Linked DNA regions of Homo sapiens: region 1 is linked to region 2. The links come from fine-mapping of genetic effects on gene expression. Tissue or cell type: blood mononuclear cells. Region 2 holds a variant in brackets; the other region holds the start of a gene. All regions are shown on one strand. Distances are between the middles of the regions.

Evidence for each region.
Region 1: TENM4 starts here. The variant in region 2 is fine-mapped to the expression of TENM4 in blood mononuclear cells (TOPMed, PIP above 0.99). The same link has a PIP of 0.9 or more in T cells, lung and monocytes.

Annotation. Positions count from the first base shown.
Region 1 is chr11:79,437,384-79,445,713 of GRCh38, forward strand. TENM4 (teneurin transmembrane protein 4) reads right to left here and starts at 3,647. Exons shown (of 34, transcript NM_001098816.3): 1 at 3,126-3,647. RefSeq lists silencers at 3,236-3,345, 3,606-3,775.
Region 2 is chr11:79,377,652-79,385,981 of GRCh38, forward strand. The region is part of intron 1 of TENM4 (teneurin transmembrane protein 4); the gene reads right to left. Among named protein-coding and RNA genes, the nearest start is that of MIR708, 20 kb to the right of the region's middle. The variant A/G (reference allele first, on the strand shown) is at 3,791.

The DNA.
Region 1 (8,330 bases), 60 kb after region 2:
CCGCAGGAACGCGGCCGGGCCGGGGACGGGAGAAAGGCGCGGCCGGGACCCTGCACTGTGCCGCGCGGCGCTTGCGGCTGGAACTTGGCCTGGAACGCGGTCTTCTCGGCTCCAGTTTCCCGCCCAGGCCCCGCCCACCCGGCCGCCCCGCTGGTTCGCACCGCTGCTCCGGCCACCGAGGAGCCCAAAGTTGGCGGCGTCCCGCGGACTCCGGCGGAGAGCGCGAGGGAGTCGCGGCCGACTCCTGTACCACGAAGACAACTGGAGGCCGGCGGGGGAGGCGGGCCACGAGGGGCTGGGGCGAGGGAGCTGGGATGCGCGGGCCCGGCTCGCCGGGAAACAGGTTGCCGCGGAGTCCCGTCCCCTCCCCCTCTGCGGTCCCCGCCGCGACCTGATTCCCGCCCTGCCCGGGGAGCTAACCCAGCCGCCTCCGGGGCGCCCTCCTTCTTCCTGGATTCCCACGGCTGGACCAGAGCCCCTCTGGCAGCCGGGTTAAAGGCTCCTTCAGCAAGGTCAAGGCGCGGCCGGCTGGCACCTGGGGATTTTTTTCCAGCCGAGCACTGGCTTTTCAATCGCATTGTTAAGGATCATGGCAGCGGCAGGAAATCCGAAGGGCCCCACAGGTCTGCGGGAGGGAGGATTTATTTTACAGCAAGGAACAGATTCAGACAGATCGGGGATTTCAGTGGGAGGGGACGAGAGGTTTCAGGACGCTGGAATGTGGCAAAAACAAAACACTCCCCACCCATGCACATCACCATCTCCTGACTGCGGGCTGGGGGGAAGGGAGTTCAGGGCCAATGTGTCCCAGACTTCAGCGTTCCCCACGGCTGTGTCAGGGCTGGGGTGGCTTATCCCCCTACAGACGAAAATCAAGATTTAAAAGCATACTCTTACTGTGGTTTCTCTATCAAAGCCCATCAACGTGATACACAGGCTGCGGCGCTGGAGGGAAGCGGCGAAACGGGGAGAATAAACGCAACAGAAGCAAACTGCTGTCTGCAGAGGCGAGAGGCGAAGGAACGGAAGCCATACCCGACCCCAGCCCCATCCCGTCCCCATCAGCGCCGGGCTAGCGCAGGAAACCAGGAATAGGTGTAGGTAAGGGTGGCAGCCCGGCAGAGCCAGCGTTCTACTCCCTCTAACCCCTCGCCAGCGTGGGCCTGGATGGCTGGGCTGCCTGGGCATCTCCAAGGGGGACCAGGCACCGCGGGCAGGTTTCTAAACACGTGAAGGGCACAGGGCTTGAAAGACAAGGAGGGGCGCCCAGGAAGGGCGGAAAAGAGGGGCTTTGGGGCTCCCCAGGACACCAAGTCAGTTTCTGAAAACGGCGTTCCCTGGAAGGCCTTCCAACACCTCCGAGGGAAGACTTGGAGCTCTGAAGACCCAATGAAACCTCAGTTCTGACTGACTCCTCCTCTGCGATCAATTCCGGATGCCCCCACTTAGTCCCTGCCTCGGTAACCGGTTCTTTGGGGACAGCAGCATCAGCACCCGACGCCCATCGCACAAGTGGGCGCCGTGGTGCGAGGCGTATCCTAGCTACCCAGGCCGGGGTGGGGGCGCCCCGGTACTTACACTCCCCAAGCAGGCAAACTTTCAGGCTTGTCTTTCGAGAACCGGGAGCTCGCATCACAGTTCCGGGTAATCACCGAGGCAGCTTATGTAATTGCCCGCGATGCCGCTCAGCAGATCTCTCTCCTTACTCGGCCTCAGAGCTCAGTACATGGGCACCCTCTTCCCCCCACCCCCCACCCCGGCGATTGGAATCCCGAGCTTGCCCCACCACCGCCTTCTACAAAGCAGCGGGGTGATCTCGTGTGCTACAAACACCAAGCCAGTATGCAGGTTCAGGCAAAACTCTGGCTGCCTCCCTGCGCCCCTTTCACTGCGTCGATGGTTTACAGATAACTGCATTTCTATAAACCCTCTCTCCACGGTTAGGGGGTGGGAGGGAGTTAGAGATCGGGTGGGGGCTTGGCGCGGTACTGTTGAGGGCTCTGCACCCAACTGAGCAGTAATACACTCATCCACATGGACGCGGGTGCATAAATCGCCTTAACATTTTGCCCTGAAAGCGGAGCCAATTTCCAAAGTTAAGGACCACGCAGCTGAATTTCCAGTACTTTCCAACCTCGCCTAGGCGGGGGCAGGCAGAGAAGGGGCGGGCAGCGGGCAGCTAACTCGCCCGACCCCCCCGCCAAGAAGGACTCACTAGGTGAACCCCCCGCCCTTCACCCAAGTAGTTGGTTGTGTATTCCTCGGTTGCGTGTGTGTGTCCACACACACACACACACACACACACACACGCCGCCCCACTACCTTCCAGTCTGCTCCTCCAATGTAACGACCGCATTTAAAAATGGCAATTAAAATGACTGAGGAGCTCGGTGATCACATTTCAACCCAGAGCACATTTCCCGAAGCTGGGGGTGAGAGTAGTCATACAGTCACACTCACACCCGGGAGCCCTCCAAGCGTCCATCTGGCGGCTGCAGCCTCAGTTGGCTCCTAGACGAACATCAATACCGCGGCCGGGCGCCCGGTGAGGAGAGGCGGGCGCCCCGCGGGTTGCAGAGGGCGAGGAGCTGGGGTCGCATCTCCAGGATCTGAGCTCCAACCACCGCCCGTGCGGGGCTGCTGCAGCCGGCACTTGCCCCGCAGGGCAGGCTGCAGCCGCTGAAGCCCGGCGCCGCCTCGCGGGCTCCTCCAGCGCCCGACGGGGGCCTGGGGCGAGCTAGTCTGCAGAGGGGCTGCAGGCGACCGGGCCGGGGCGGGGAACGGGATCCGGGAGAGGCAGACGAACCTGGGGCGCGCCGCCTCCCTCCCACCCGCTTCCCACCTCCCTGCCCTCCCCCAACCCTTGCTCCCAGGCTCCAGTCCGCGGCGGGCTCCGGGGGCTGCGGCGGCTCCAGGCTCCAGAACAGCTTGCCTCTTCGGCCACCCGCGCCCTAGCCTCCCTCCTCCTGGGCCAGGGGAGCAAGCAAACATCTCCCGGAGCCCTCGGCAGCCGCGTGAGCTACCCGAACCCTGCCCGGGCCAGCAGTGCAGAGGGCGATGGAGCTGGCGAGGCGTCGCCGCGGTCCCCAAGGCGCTTTTCCGTAGAGCGGATCACGCCGCCTTACCGTGGCTGCAGGCTGCTACCGCCGGGGAAGCGGCGAGGACGGCGGCAGGGAGGCAAGGCGCCGCGCCGGTGGCTCCTCTCTCTCTCGGCGGCGCGGCTCCTCTGCTCCGCGAGCCGTAGCGGGGCGCCCAGGAAGGAGCAGGTCCGGGCTCTGCGCTCAGCTCCAGCGAGACCAACAATAGCTCCCGCGGGGAGCGGAGCCCCAGCGAGCCTCCAGCCGCGCGCGCACGACCGGCTCCCGCTCCCGGCCGCTCCCGGCCGGCGTCCCTGCCAGCACTGCTGCCCCACATGAAACAGCTGCAATCCCGAGGCTTCTGGGGGGTTGGGGCGGGTGTGTGCGCGCGCGTGTGTGAGTGTGTGTGTGTGTGTGTGTGTTTAATAGCTTCCCTTCTCTTCTTCCCCTCCCTGCCTGCTCGCCTGCCTGCCTCCGTCCCCCACCCTCGCTCTCTTACACACAGAAAGAGAGGGCGAGCGAGAGAGAGACACACACACACACGCACACGCACACGCAGGTTACATGAATGGGAGGCGGTAGCCAATCCTACGAGGCCGGCGAGCCGCGCGGCGCACTGGCGCTGGGAGCAGGGCCGCACTCCGGCGCGGGGGGGCGCCACGCAGGTGATGGGCGCCTCTCCGGGGGCCACGCGCGGCCGCTCCCTCACCCCAGTCTCGGTTCCTCTGTCTCCTTCCCCCTTCCTCTCCGCCGCCTTCTCCATCTTCTCTCCTTTTACCTCCTTTGCTTTCTCGAGTTCTCCGAGCTCTCTCAGTTCGGTATCTTTCTGGTCTCTTTCTTCTTTTACCCTCCTTGCTTGCTTTCTCTTCCCCTTTCTGAAACTTTCTCTTTTCCTTTCTGGACTTTCTTGTACTTCCTCTCCTCTTGCCTTTTGTTCTTTCCTCCTCCTTTGGCTTTCTCTCCAGGCTCCCCGTAGCACGGTCTCGTCCCCTCTCCCTCCTCTTCGCCTTTCCCTGGGTCTCTCTGGCGCCCAGGGCCTCCCTTCTGCCTGCTCGCTGGATGTTACTCCACACCCCCCACCCCAACACTTTTCTAGGGACGGTCTCTTTCAAGTTGCTACTGCAGCACAATCAGAGTAATTAAGAGCTGAGATCTTGAGTTCCTTCTTCAGGCATGCAAGATGCCCAAAGAAAGGCCCTCCTTCCTCGGACAACTTCCCCAAAACCATGGTAACAGCTACTGAGTCGTGATAACAATCACTTAAAAAATAGCAGTGATTGCGGTCCAAGAGATTTCTGTCCCTCGAATGTTTGGATCGTGATGGCAAGCACATTTCCAAGAGAAGGGCATTTTTATGTGATGAGAGCGGTAGTTTGACTGAGTGGCAACTTGGAAGGGCTTTGGGGAAGAGACTGGAGGAATTCCCACTCCAGCCCTGCTGCCTGCTGGCTAAAGGACTTAGTGCGAGCCATTTCCCCTTACCCGGCTTCAGTTTTCTCATCTATAAAATGGATGATACCGACTTCACCAGTTTTGGTGAGGATTAAAAGAGAGAACAATGGAAAGAAAGCACTGGGTGTATATGAGATGCTTAATTTATGTTAGTTTCCTTCTTTAAGACAACTTCCTTCATGATCTTCTGCTACAGTGTGTCTCTCTGATCTAAAGTAGTCAATGAAGGAGGAAATGTGACAATGCTAATTTCACATAAATGTGAAAGGAGGGGTAGGCTATTTTGAAAACTCTTCTGTGTGGTGAGGAGACTGTCTAGCCAGTTGCCATATGCTGATTATAAAGGCATCACAGATTATAAACGTGGGGTGCTGGAATGCCCCTTCAACATCTCATAACTAGGGCATCTCAGAAAGGCAGGGATGGGTTGGGGTGGGTGGGAAGTTTCCACACAATCTGTCCAATCTATTTTTAAAATCTTTATGATAAGTGTACAGTGACCAGTGACAAAGCCTCTGAGATTAACTAAAATGTCAAGTCTCTGCCTTTGAATAGCATTTATCAACTTTGTGTCCTCACTGCAGACATCAAATGCTGGGCATCAGCTGTGATTGGCAGTTAGATTTAGTCCTTCAACAAATATTTCTTGACCACCTACTTTGTGGCAGGTGCTGTGATAGGTCTCGGCATTCAGTGGTGAGACAAACAGGCCCTGTTTTCTGAGCTTACAGTTCAGTAGGCATGTTTCATGAATGTACACTGAGAAAATGAGACACATGTACCTGAAGGAGTAACATTGGTTTGGTGGACAAATTCTTTCATTACAGAAGATCCAAGACAGGGAGTATAAGAAAGGGATCTTTGAGAGTGATAATTTTGCAAATCACTTTCAGTCTATGCATTTCATTTGACCAGTGAGAAAAATGAGACCCAGATGCTAAAAGTAGTGGGTGAAAGTATGTTGAGAAACAAAAAATATATATAGGTTCAAAGTATCTGCCCACATGATACTGATTAATTTCAAAGGGGAAAATAGTAACTTTTCAATAGAAAACCTGAAAGACTCCACCTTGAGTGATTAAAATCAGTATTAGCAGGAATGTGACAAATAGACATCAAGTGGCCCCTGATATAGTGCACTGGGAAGGACATATCACTTCTGTGATATTCCTGGTAGACATGAATAACCTGAATCTAATCATGAGGGATGCCCAATGGAATTGTTGGGAGTAAGGGAAGACTTCCCATAGGAGATGACAGGTTCTCACTCTGTCATCCAGGCTGGAGTGCAGTGGTGCCATCTTGGTTCACTGAAGCCTCAACCTCCTGAGCTCAGGTGATCCTCCCACCTCAGCCTCTTGAGTAGCTGGGACCACAGGCATGTGCCACCACACCACGCCAAACTAATTTTATTTGTTTGTTTGTTTGTTTTACAGATGAGGTCTCACTATGTTGCCCAGGCTGGTCTCAAATACCATCAATCCTCTGCCCTAGGCTTCCCAGAGTGCTGGGATTATAGGTGTGAGCTACCATACCTGGCCTTGAGCTGAGTTTTGAAGGCAAGGAATTAGCTAGACCGTGAAAGGAGGGGAGATGCTTTTTAGGTACAGGCAATAGTATGATGACATGGACAAAAGCATGAGACACTCATAGCAGAGTTGGACATATTGGGGGAGGGTCTTGGAGGAGTCTAGATGAGTCCCTAGCATCTAGGATTGGATTTTGACAGGGCCTGAAGGAGGCTAAGGATCCAAACATCCTGAAAGTTCAGGTACTGGGGCAGAAGGAGGGTAGACAGTTAATAAAGGCTTTTAAGAAGAGGAAGGATGTGATCTTGAGTGTGTTTTCAAAAGATGATTTGGCAGCAGTGTAGAGAAATGGATTAACTGGGGTGACTTAGGAAGAGTAGAGGCAGGAAAAAGTAGGTCATTTAGGGAAACTAAGGCAGTTGCAATGAAGCCAGAAAAGGGAGGAGAGATTTGAGAGAGATTGAGGATGATTTTGATTTCTGATTGGATGGGGGTAGCAAGGAGAAGCCCAAAGTGACACTCAGTTTTCAAGCTTGGGTATCTCAATAGAAGGTGGTACTACTCATTGCGATGTCAAGAGTATTCAGGAGGAAGTAGAATTCAGGGAGCATTTTAGAGGGGGGAAAAAAGGTCAGTTGCTACCATGTTATAATCTAACTCTATAGCTAACCGGAGATTCTCCTATATGGCTGCTCTGTGCCATAGGAAACACTAGTTGTAAAATTCAGCCTAAGACCTCCAAACAGCCAGCTCTACGTATTGCCCAGAAAAACAGGAGATTGGATATAATGACAGTACATTATTTGTAATAATGGGAAAAAAATTGAAGCAGCCTAAATGGTCAAATAAAATAAGTAAACTGGAGGACAGCCTTTGTTGGAATATTATGCAGCTACTCGAAAGTGTTTTTGCAGTTTTTCGTGCCATAAAAAAGTTAGTATTGTCATATATAATATTTTAAAAGAGAATTCAAAATTGTTAGCTACATAAAAACCCTCTTGCAGAAAAGTCTGAAGAAAAAAATGCCAAATATTAACCGTGTTTTCTTCTGGGTGATGGGGTTATGAGTAATATATATTTTCTTCTTTATACTTTTTCTGGCATTTTATAATCTTCCTACTATAAACATTCATTATTCCATTATAAAAACTTTTTAAAGCTGCCATTAAAAAAACACAAAGACATGGCTATGATCATTCCCCCTCCCCTGACTTTATCCCTTTTCAATCCACCGTTCCCACTCCCCCTGAAGAGTAACTGCGTTTTGAGTTTTATCTCTGAGAGTGAAATAAGGAGGCATTTAACAAATCAGGGGAAATTAGTAGCTGGGCTAGAGAGGGGGAGAGGGCATTCTTATGGAGGCAGATACATTATGAGAGCTGTTGAAACTGTATATATTAAAGATGTTTGCATTGCCCTTATTGATTCTGTGATATGTTACAAGCAAAAGAAAACATATAGTGGGGTCAAGAAAATGTGAGTCTTTAAAGGGCAAGTTTTAATTAGCAAATGTATTTATTTGCAAAAAAAAAATCCTTCCCTTCAGAGTCCAGCTGTTACTATAAAATTGTTTCAGGGAGTAAGTACTTCAAAGCAAGAAGACACTGAGGAGCAAGAGGCAATGCCTCATGCCTGTTGTCTGACACCACATCAAATATGCAAGTTGGTTACTTAGGATTTGGACACCTACTGATAAATGCCATCAAACTTCCATAATTAGAGGGTGAGAAAAGTGCCTGCCAGAGGATAGTCTCAGTCTTTGGAAAAGTTGCTGTAAATAGTTCCCTGGTGAGGTTACATCTGCATCTCTGATTTTCGTCTCACAGAAATATTTACCCTGTGGGTAATTTCCCCAACCTAATAATAATAACACCTTACACAGCATAGCCCTTTCACCTTTTCAAAGGGCCTCCGCATCTGTTGATTGACTCAATCCTTGTACCCACGCCTGCTGGAATCCTACTTCCAGTGTGCACCAAGAGGAAGAGGGACCCAGAGAGGTTCAAACAAAGAGGCAGAGCAGGGGCTAGAACTAAAAGAAGGAATAAGAGACATTCTTGAAGAGCCTTCTGTGTGGCCCTGGAGCTTCCACGGTGTGTTATCACATAGAATTGTGATAACTAGAGGGGGAGAGTGAACACACTGAGGCTTGTGAGGTTCTGGCTCAGCCGAATCAGAATCAGAATCCAGCTCTCCAGAACTCCCAAGCCACTTGCCTTTCCCAGCATAGCCCCATTTTTAAAAGCCAAGAGGTGAGGCTGGTGGTGATTTT
Region 2 (8,330 bases):
GTGTCAGTGCTAACCTAGTGCTCACTATGTGCCAGTCACCAAGCTAAGCCTTCACTTGCAAGGGAAGTACTGGACAGCATTCCCAAGAGGGAAGCTGGATGGGTTAAATGTGGCCCTAAAAGAAAAGTGTTCTGTACTCCCTAGAAAGTGGAGATGTGATTTACTGGAAAGCTATAACGTCCTAGAAAGAAACACAAGCCAAAAAACAAAACAAAATACAATTAAAAAAAATAGAGATATTTTACTCTGCCAAGGGCACCTTTCCCATCCTTTTGTAACCAGCCAAGGATCTTTTCCCGGTAAGTGTGTCTTTCCCATAATACAGAGGTCAGGCTCAAACACTAAACACAGTTGAACATCCTCTCATTTCATCATCTTTACTCTCCGTGCCTTCCTTGAGAATTGACTTTTCTAGACCCACTGGTCTAAAATTTTTATTTTAAAAAAAGGCAAATTAAAGTACAAAGCTGCTGGTACCACCTGAAAATGTCAAGGTTAGAAAGGCAACAGCTTCTCCCCAGGAACTAATGCTTTTCTGTCTCATAGGAAATCTTGTGCATGCCTGGATCTTGGGCACTGGAGACCTGTCGCCACCAAGATCTGTCCTGCACCTGTAGGGGCCAATGGAGTAGGGGGCCTGGGGCCCTTCTCTGGCTCTTTATCCTGGTCCCTGCCAAGGCCTTAGTCTGGATGTGGGGATCACGCTCCTGACAGGGCAACTGGGGAAGAACAGGGGAAAGAAGATGATGAAAACGAGCAAGACTGGTGGAGAAGGAACATTGCATGGCTGCCCAGCTAAGTGAGGAGCATGGGAGGAATAATCTAGGTCTTTCTTCTGGAATCCCGGTCCAGACTGTCACCTGGGGGCATGCCTTGCTCTGAACCACTTCCACACTCCACCTTATGTCCAGACTGGGCTCCCACTCACACAGTATGCAGAGAAGGGGCAGGTGCAGGCTCCAGACTGCTGGGGGTTGAATCCTCGAACCACCACTAATGAACTGAGAGGCACAGGAAATATGTCTTAACCTTCCCTGCCTCAGCAGCCTCACCTGTAAAATATGGATAATAGAAAGAAGATGAGAGCCAGGCATGGTTGTGTGCACCTGTTGTCCCAGATACTCAGGAGGCTGAGGTGGAAGGACCGTTTCAGCCCAGGAAGTTGAGGCTGTAGTGAGCTATGATTGCACCAATGCACTCCAGCCTGGGTGACAGAATGAGGCCCTGTCTGTTAAAAAAAAAAAAAAAAAAAAGGAAAGAAAGAAAATGAGGAAAGTGTGGCTCAGGAAACCTGTAACACAGTCCTTCTTTATTCCTTCTTCTGCATTCTTTCTGCAAACACACTGGTAAGCCCAAGCCTCTGCCCTCATAGAGGTTACAGTGCTTGTAGGGGTAAGAAAATAAGACAATGAGAGTGTGAGGAAATGCACATTTTGCTGGCAGAGACAGGCCCAGGGGAAGGCCTTTACAAGCGAGGGTGCTGGACGGGTTAGCAATAGGTAGCAGCATATGCAAGGCCAGGAGGAGAGAAAGGCTCGTGGGTTCAAGGACAGAGCAGAGGTCAGAGTGCCTGGAGCAGTGGACTAGGTTGAGAACAGCACAAGGAAAGTCAAAGAGCTACCTCCCAGGCCAGGTCAGGCCTGAGTTGTTTAAGTTTTATTTTAATTGTGATGCTAAACCTACTTTGAGGGTTTTTATGCAGGGGAGTGAGGCTGTTATAGCCGTGTTATCGGAAGACCTCTCTGGATGCTGTGTGGAGACTGTACTAGCGTAGAGTGGAAACAGGACCCCTTTTAGATACGATTGACGTGGTTCAGGGAGAGATGACAATGGACTGGATCAGGGTGGTCCAATTTGAGATGGAGAGACGGATGGGTTCAAGGAGTACTGTGATATCTGATGTTCACTTGAGTGCTGCTTGGCACTGTACAAAGCACTGAGCATCCACTATTTTATATGCTCCTTCTGACAGCCATATGAAGTCAGTGCTCATGTTATCTCCAGGTGAGAAAATTAAGGACCAGAGAGGTTAGGTGATTTCCCTCAGACCACACAGTGAGTAAGTGGCAGAGGCAGGATCTGGACCAAGGCCATCCTGTTCCAGAGCCCATACACCACACTGCTCTTCCTTGAACAGGCCTGGACAATGGATGGGCTGAGGGTGGTGAGGGAGAGGAAAAATGAGACAGCTTCTAGGGTTTAGGCTTGAGGAACGGGGCTAATGGTGGTGCTGTTTACAGATGGGGATTAGCTGAGGGAGAGACTGGCTTGTCAGGGGCTGGGGGATCAAGAGCTCTGCTTTAGACATGTTGAGTTCCAGCCACTTTCGTCTGCTCTTCAGCCCTTTTCTGTCTCCACGGGGCAGTCAATAATGGGGGTGAAAGTGAGGGCAGGGCTGGTGGGGCAGAGAGAAGCAGGACAATTGTTCTCTGTCTACAGAACCTCCTTCCCCCAACACATGCAGCTATGAGCCTCCCAATGTCCTTTTATAAAAGGAGGTGTGATGGCAACATCTCCAGAAATGCAGCAAATGTTGAATGAGAAAAGCAAAGCAAGATTGTCTAAACACCTTTTGTTTGCCTTCAAGATTTCTCATAAGTTATCAATAGTTCTTGGGAGTGGCACACATGGGCATTTTCCACATCAAGACAGTGTAGGGAAAAAAAAAAAGAAGAGAGGAAGAGAATGAATGACAACACAAGGCTGCACTATGCTTCTGAATGCTGGAGGCGGGAATCCAATGCTATTTCAGGGACTGGGGTGGTATCATGGGAGAATCTCCATCCTTGGGGGCCCACTTGCTGAGTCAGGTCTTGGGAACAGGCTGATTGATCTATTTCAGTGTTTACTGAAGAGTCATTTGGCTCTGTAGGATGTTAATAAGCATTAACAAAGCAAAGATTCCTTGTCGCATAAGCTTGGGAAAAGCTGGCTTATTATAGCTTCTTTACTGCAGGACTTCTCAGAATCTTGAACTTGGGAATGCACACTGTGAACCTCCAAGAAGGAGGGGAATTTCCCAAATGTGTTTAATCACAGAACGCTTTTGTAGCCAAGCACTCCAAGGATGCTTGTTCCAGGAAACAGATTTTGGGAAATGTTCATCAAATTCGTTTCATTCTTACGGAAAGGCAATAGAACCATTACTCAGAATTGAATGTTGGAGGTTCCTGGATGTGCAGACTGGAAAACCAAGCCAGAAGCTTTGTAAGGAAGATCGAAGAATAGAGGCTGTGTAGTAAGGCTTGGGGCTGTGTGACCATAAGCCATTCTCAATCTTGGTTTCTCAACTGTCTGGTGAGAATGAGAATAACTTCCCTGTAGAATTCTTGGAGGATTAGTGGAGATAACTCACACTAAGGCCCCAAATGCAGGAGCCTAGAACACAACAGGCCTCTCTAGATCCTCCGAGGCCTCTGGCAGGCTCCTTGTAGCCCTGACTCTTGAGTGCATGATCCGTGCAGGTCAGATAGCCCTTCTGACCTCCTTGCTACACCAGCTTGCTTTTTTCCTTGGCAACAGTGCTCCCCAGGTAGCCCAATTCCCTGCCATTATCAGGCTTCTCAAGTGGTCAATCAAGGGTAGCCAAGTCCGGCCTGGAACTTCTAAACAAGTACCCCCTCAGGAAAGCAGTCTTTATAGCCAATGATGCAATTATGTCCCACAGCTCAAATGGCCTGGAAAAAAAAAAAAAATCCAGGAGGAAAGAACCAGTGTGCACAGCTTTCTAAATGCATCAGGTTTCTAAAATGCTCCAAGGCTCCTTGTCTGTTGTAACCATGGCTTCTGC[A/G]GTGGCTAACACACAGGACCTAGCCCTGTGTTTCAAGAGTCCCCAACGTTTGCTCACCACTCAAGCGTTCATTCAACCCGTTGACCGAATTGAGTTCATTAAACTCTGGACCGAATTTGGGGCCAGGTATTAGGGTGCAAATGAGCAGCCCATCTAGTGTGCAAGGTAGACAGTGAGTCAGTAAGCATTGGGATATTTGAATTGGATGGGTTCAAGGAGTACTGTGATATCCGACGTTCACTTGAGCGCTGTTTGGCACGGTACAAAGCTCTGAGCATTCACTATTTCATATGTTCCTCCTGACAGCCATATGAAGTCAGTACTCATGTTATCTCCAGGTGAGAAAATTGAGGACCAGAGAGGTTAGGTGATTTCCCTCAGACCACACAGTGAGTAAGTGGCAGAGGCAGGATCTGGACCAAGGCCGTCCTGTTCCAGAGCCCACACACCACACTGCTCTTCCTTGAACAGGCCTTGACAATGGACGGGCTATACACAAATTTCAATGACAACAAGAGGGTCCAGGCTTTGGTTCATTCCAAGGTGGGGTTTCAAACTAGGTCACATTTAGGGAGCATTTGGCACGTGCCAGATATGGTGGTAGAATATTTTTGCATAAATTATCTCAACTTAGACATAATTACAACACAATTTTCCGAAGGAGAAAATAGCAAATCAGATAGGTACAGGGAGTTGCCCAAGGACACACAGCTCATTAGGGGGAGGGCCAAGATTCAAATGTAACTCGTCTGGCCGGGCAGCCTTCAGCCAGCCACACCTGAGCCAAATCAACTGAGGGAATTGGCAGTGGCCGTGCCAGAGGGTTCTCTGGGGATTAGAGGTGGTGGTCTCTGTGAACACCCTTCCTTAACCTGGGGGCTTCAGACACATGCTCTTTTGTTCCTTCTGTCTTGTGTTTCTTTTCCTCTGCCTTGTGCAGGCTTCGCTTTCGGTGGAATGAAAGCCTCCTACTTATGTACATGCCACTCTCAGTCCAGAATTTAGTCAAAATGAGCAAACATGGAGTTCTCAAGAAAGTTTTTACCAGCATCTGCAATCCCCCATGCCCTGCAGAGATCAGCCTCAGGAACTCTACTGGCAGCAATCCTGGAATACTTCCTGAAGGAAGCCTCCTATGTGGCAGAATCCAAGCAATTATGAAGTCCAGAGCATCTTGTAAACATGGAGACCTGAGTCCTCAGTGAAGCAGGGAGAAGGGATGGAGGGTAGGGAGGGGGAGGAGGACACTGGGGAAGGGGTGCTACCGTGAGATTTGTTTCCCGAGAAGAGGCTGGGAGCCTCTTCTTCAAAGGCTCAGAGCTGGCTTCAAGCCTGAGAAATGAAACCACTCCTCTCTATGGGGAGAATCCTTGGAAGAATATTTATGAGACATTAAAACCACTGCCATCAACCCTTTAAAAAATTCCTGTACATGTAATTATGGGTCCAGGGATGAGATTCCTGGATATGGTATTAATTACTTCCCTGAAGCACACAGCCCCCAGGGGCTGCGAGCAGGCACGCTCTGCCTGTGGCCTCCTGGGTCTCCCTCTGCCCCTACAGACCCTTCCCTTCATGAGTGTGCTGTGGCTTCTCCAACTGCACCCTGGCCCCGCCATCCATCTTCTGCCTTTCTGCCCTGCTCTGTGCCCAGGAGGCTGGTCAAGTAGGTGTACCCTCTGAGTCCCCTTTCTGGCCACCCCTCACTGGCTTTGGCCAACAGAAAGCACTAGCAGGAGAGGGGAGGGCAGGAGGGGAAGAGCCTTGCCTCCGCCTTGCTTCAGTGCTGCCTAGCACTACAATGCCAGCTCCTGCCCACAGCAGCCTCTCCATCAGGCCTTGCTCTCTTTTGGCTTCAGAAATACCACTTTCTCTCCTTGCCTTGCCCCTTTAGACCTGGGTGGTTTGGTTCCACCCCCAGGTGCCCTCAACATCTCTTATTTGTTCCCTTAACCCTGACTGCTCCACTTCCACAAAACACTTCCTTCATTCAAGTCTCTTTATTTGGACCATCTGGGATGAATTCTATTTTCTGATGAGAATCTGACAAGAAGCAAATCAGGAAGGGAGCTGCGATATTTCAGGCCCATGGCCACAAACTCAGTAAGGAGTAAACCTGCTCAATCACCACCTCACTGGTGTGTCTTCATGTTCTGTGCCAGGTGTGGGTGCTGGAGATGCAAGCTGTGGGCCAGGGAGGGTGCTCATGGCCGGTGGGGAGCTCCTGATCCTGTTTCTCTCTCCTCTTGACCCCTCCCACTCCCCACTATATATACATGTGTTTCTATTTTTTTACTGTAGTCTAAAACAAAACACCACATTACTGACATCCTTGATCAACAAAATATTAGAATAATAGAGATTTTTCAATTCATCATTCATGCACCAAACCTGCCCTGCTTTCTGTGTGTCAAGCCTTGAACAAGAAACCACGGCACAGAAATGAATGTTCACATAAGGCACGTCCCTGCCCTTCAGCACTGCCAGAATATTGAGCCCCATATTTCTATGAAGCAACCAAGGAAACCTTCTGCACTAGAATCAAGATAACCTGCCCCCCCTTCCTTTCTTCCCCATGGGTTCATCTGCTAGAACACAGCTAACCAGCCAGCCAGCCAAATAGCCAGCCAGACAGACAGGCACACATGCCAGCCTGATGACCAGGAATTTCATTCAGTGCCACAGCAGTGTTAATTTACAGTGTTTTAGACCCAGCTTGTGGAGGAATGAATAGAAACTGAACATAGCAGAGGGCCTGAATCCATACAATTCCTTCATTTTCCTCAATAGGACCTAATCAGTATTTCTTTTGCGAAATGAAGAGTAACATTGATAGTAATAACACGATGCTGTGCAGGCATGCTTCTTGTTTTCATTCAACAACAGTCATGGAGCACCTGGTCTGCGTCCAGCCTCGCACTTGATCTGTGGGCTTCAGAGCATCCCCATTTGGTGTCCTTCCCTCCAGTCAGGGACACCCACTTCCCCATGCTGCTCATCATCCTCACCCCTCTGCTGACCGTGCCAGATTCTGAGCTCCTGGTCTGAGATGCGGGGGGGTTGAATTTCAGTCCCAGTCTATCACTGACTCACCTGCTGTATGAACATGCACAAACTACTTCTTCCTTCTGACTCTCGGATTTCCCACCTGCACAGTGAGGCATTAAAATGGATGGTCAGCTTAACAATAACCCACAAAACTCGGAGCACGCAGTGGCTCACGCCTGTAATCCCAGCACTTTGGGAGGCTGAGGTGGGCAAATCACTTGAGGTCAGGAGTTCAAGACCAGCCTGGCCAACATGATGAAACCCTGTCTCTACTAAAAATATAAAAATTAGCTGGGAGTAGTGGCAGGTGCCTATAATCCAAGCTACTCGGGAGGCTAAGGCAGGAGAATCTCTTAAACCCAGGAGGCAGAAGTTGCAGTGAGCCGAGATGGCACCACTGCACTCCAGCCTGGGCAACAGAGCAAGACTCCGTCTCAAAAAATAAAATTAAAATAAAATAAAATAAAATAAAATAAAATAAAATAAAATGGATGGTCAGGAGCCACCCTTTCATGAAAAATCACTGCACATTCTAAAGCCTGTGGTCACCGAGCAATGATGTGGGCTGCACAACATAGGGTTGCAGCCCAAAGTGGCATTGGAGAGAAAGAAAGGCTAGTTCCATGAGAGTGAATTAACTCTCTCTAGGCCAGTGGCTTTCACCTTGGATCCACGTTATAAACACCTAAAGGGCTTTTAAGAATCCAGATGCCCAGATTGCTGCCAAGACCAATCAAATCAGAACCTCTGGGGCTGTCACCCAAGCATCAGTATTTTTTTCAAAGTTCCCTTCATGGTGTGCAGCCAAGATTGAGAACCACTAATCTAAGTTCACTGTCAACATTTTGGGTAATTTCCACCAGATGGTCAATAATGTTCATTCAGATCACATATTTTAGATCGGGAGATTTTTCAATCATAGAAGACTGAAAGAAGCTAGGTTATTAAACCCTCTATTTGTGCCTCATCTACAAAAAAGTAATCCCCTGTTAAGATGAGAGTATATATGGATTAACTTCTATAATCAAAAATGCAATTAATTACCCAGTTAGAACAAGATTTTGAAGAGCGAATAATGCCTAATTACAAATTATGTACCCTCATTAAAATCTAACTGTTACAAATTCTTATTCAAAAAATAACCCCTTTTCTAAAGTAAATTTGCTTTACTTTACAGCTATAGAAAATATAGAAAGATTTGTGAGATTTATCCATGTTATTCCATGAAAAACATATTTTTCCCCTATCCTTTGGGAATCCCCAGAGCTTTTCAAAGGTCCTGGTTCACAGTTTCAGCCTGTTGGCAGCACTTTTCCTAACACCATCTCTCTTAGTCTGTGGACACAGGATCCCTGTGCCCCTCCTCCCTCCAAGTTACCACACACCTGCACCCTCCAAACCCCACTTGCCATTTGAGACTTTGAGTACCTGTTGTGTCTCTATTAAACAGCACAGAACAATCCCCCTCAAAAAAACAGCATATTATGTTCTT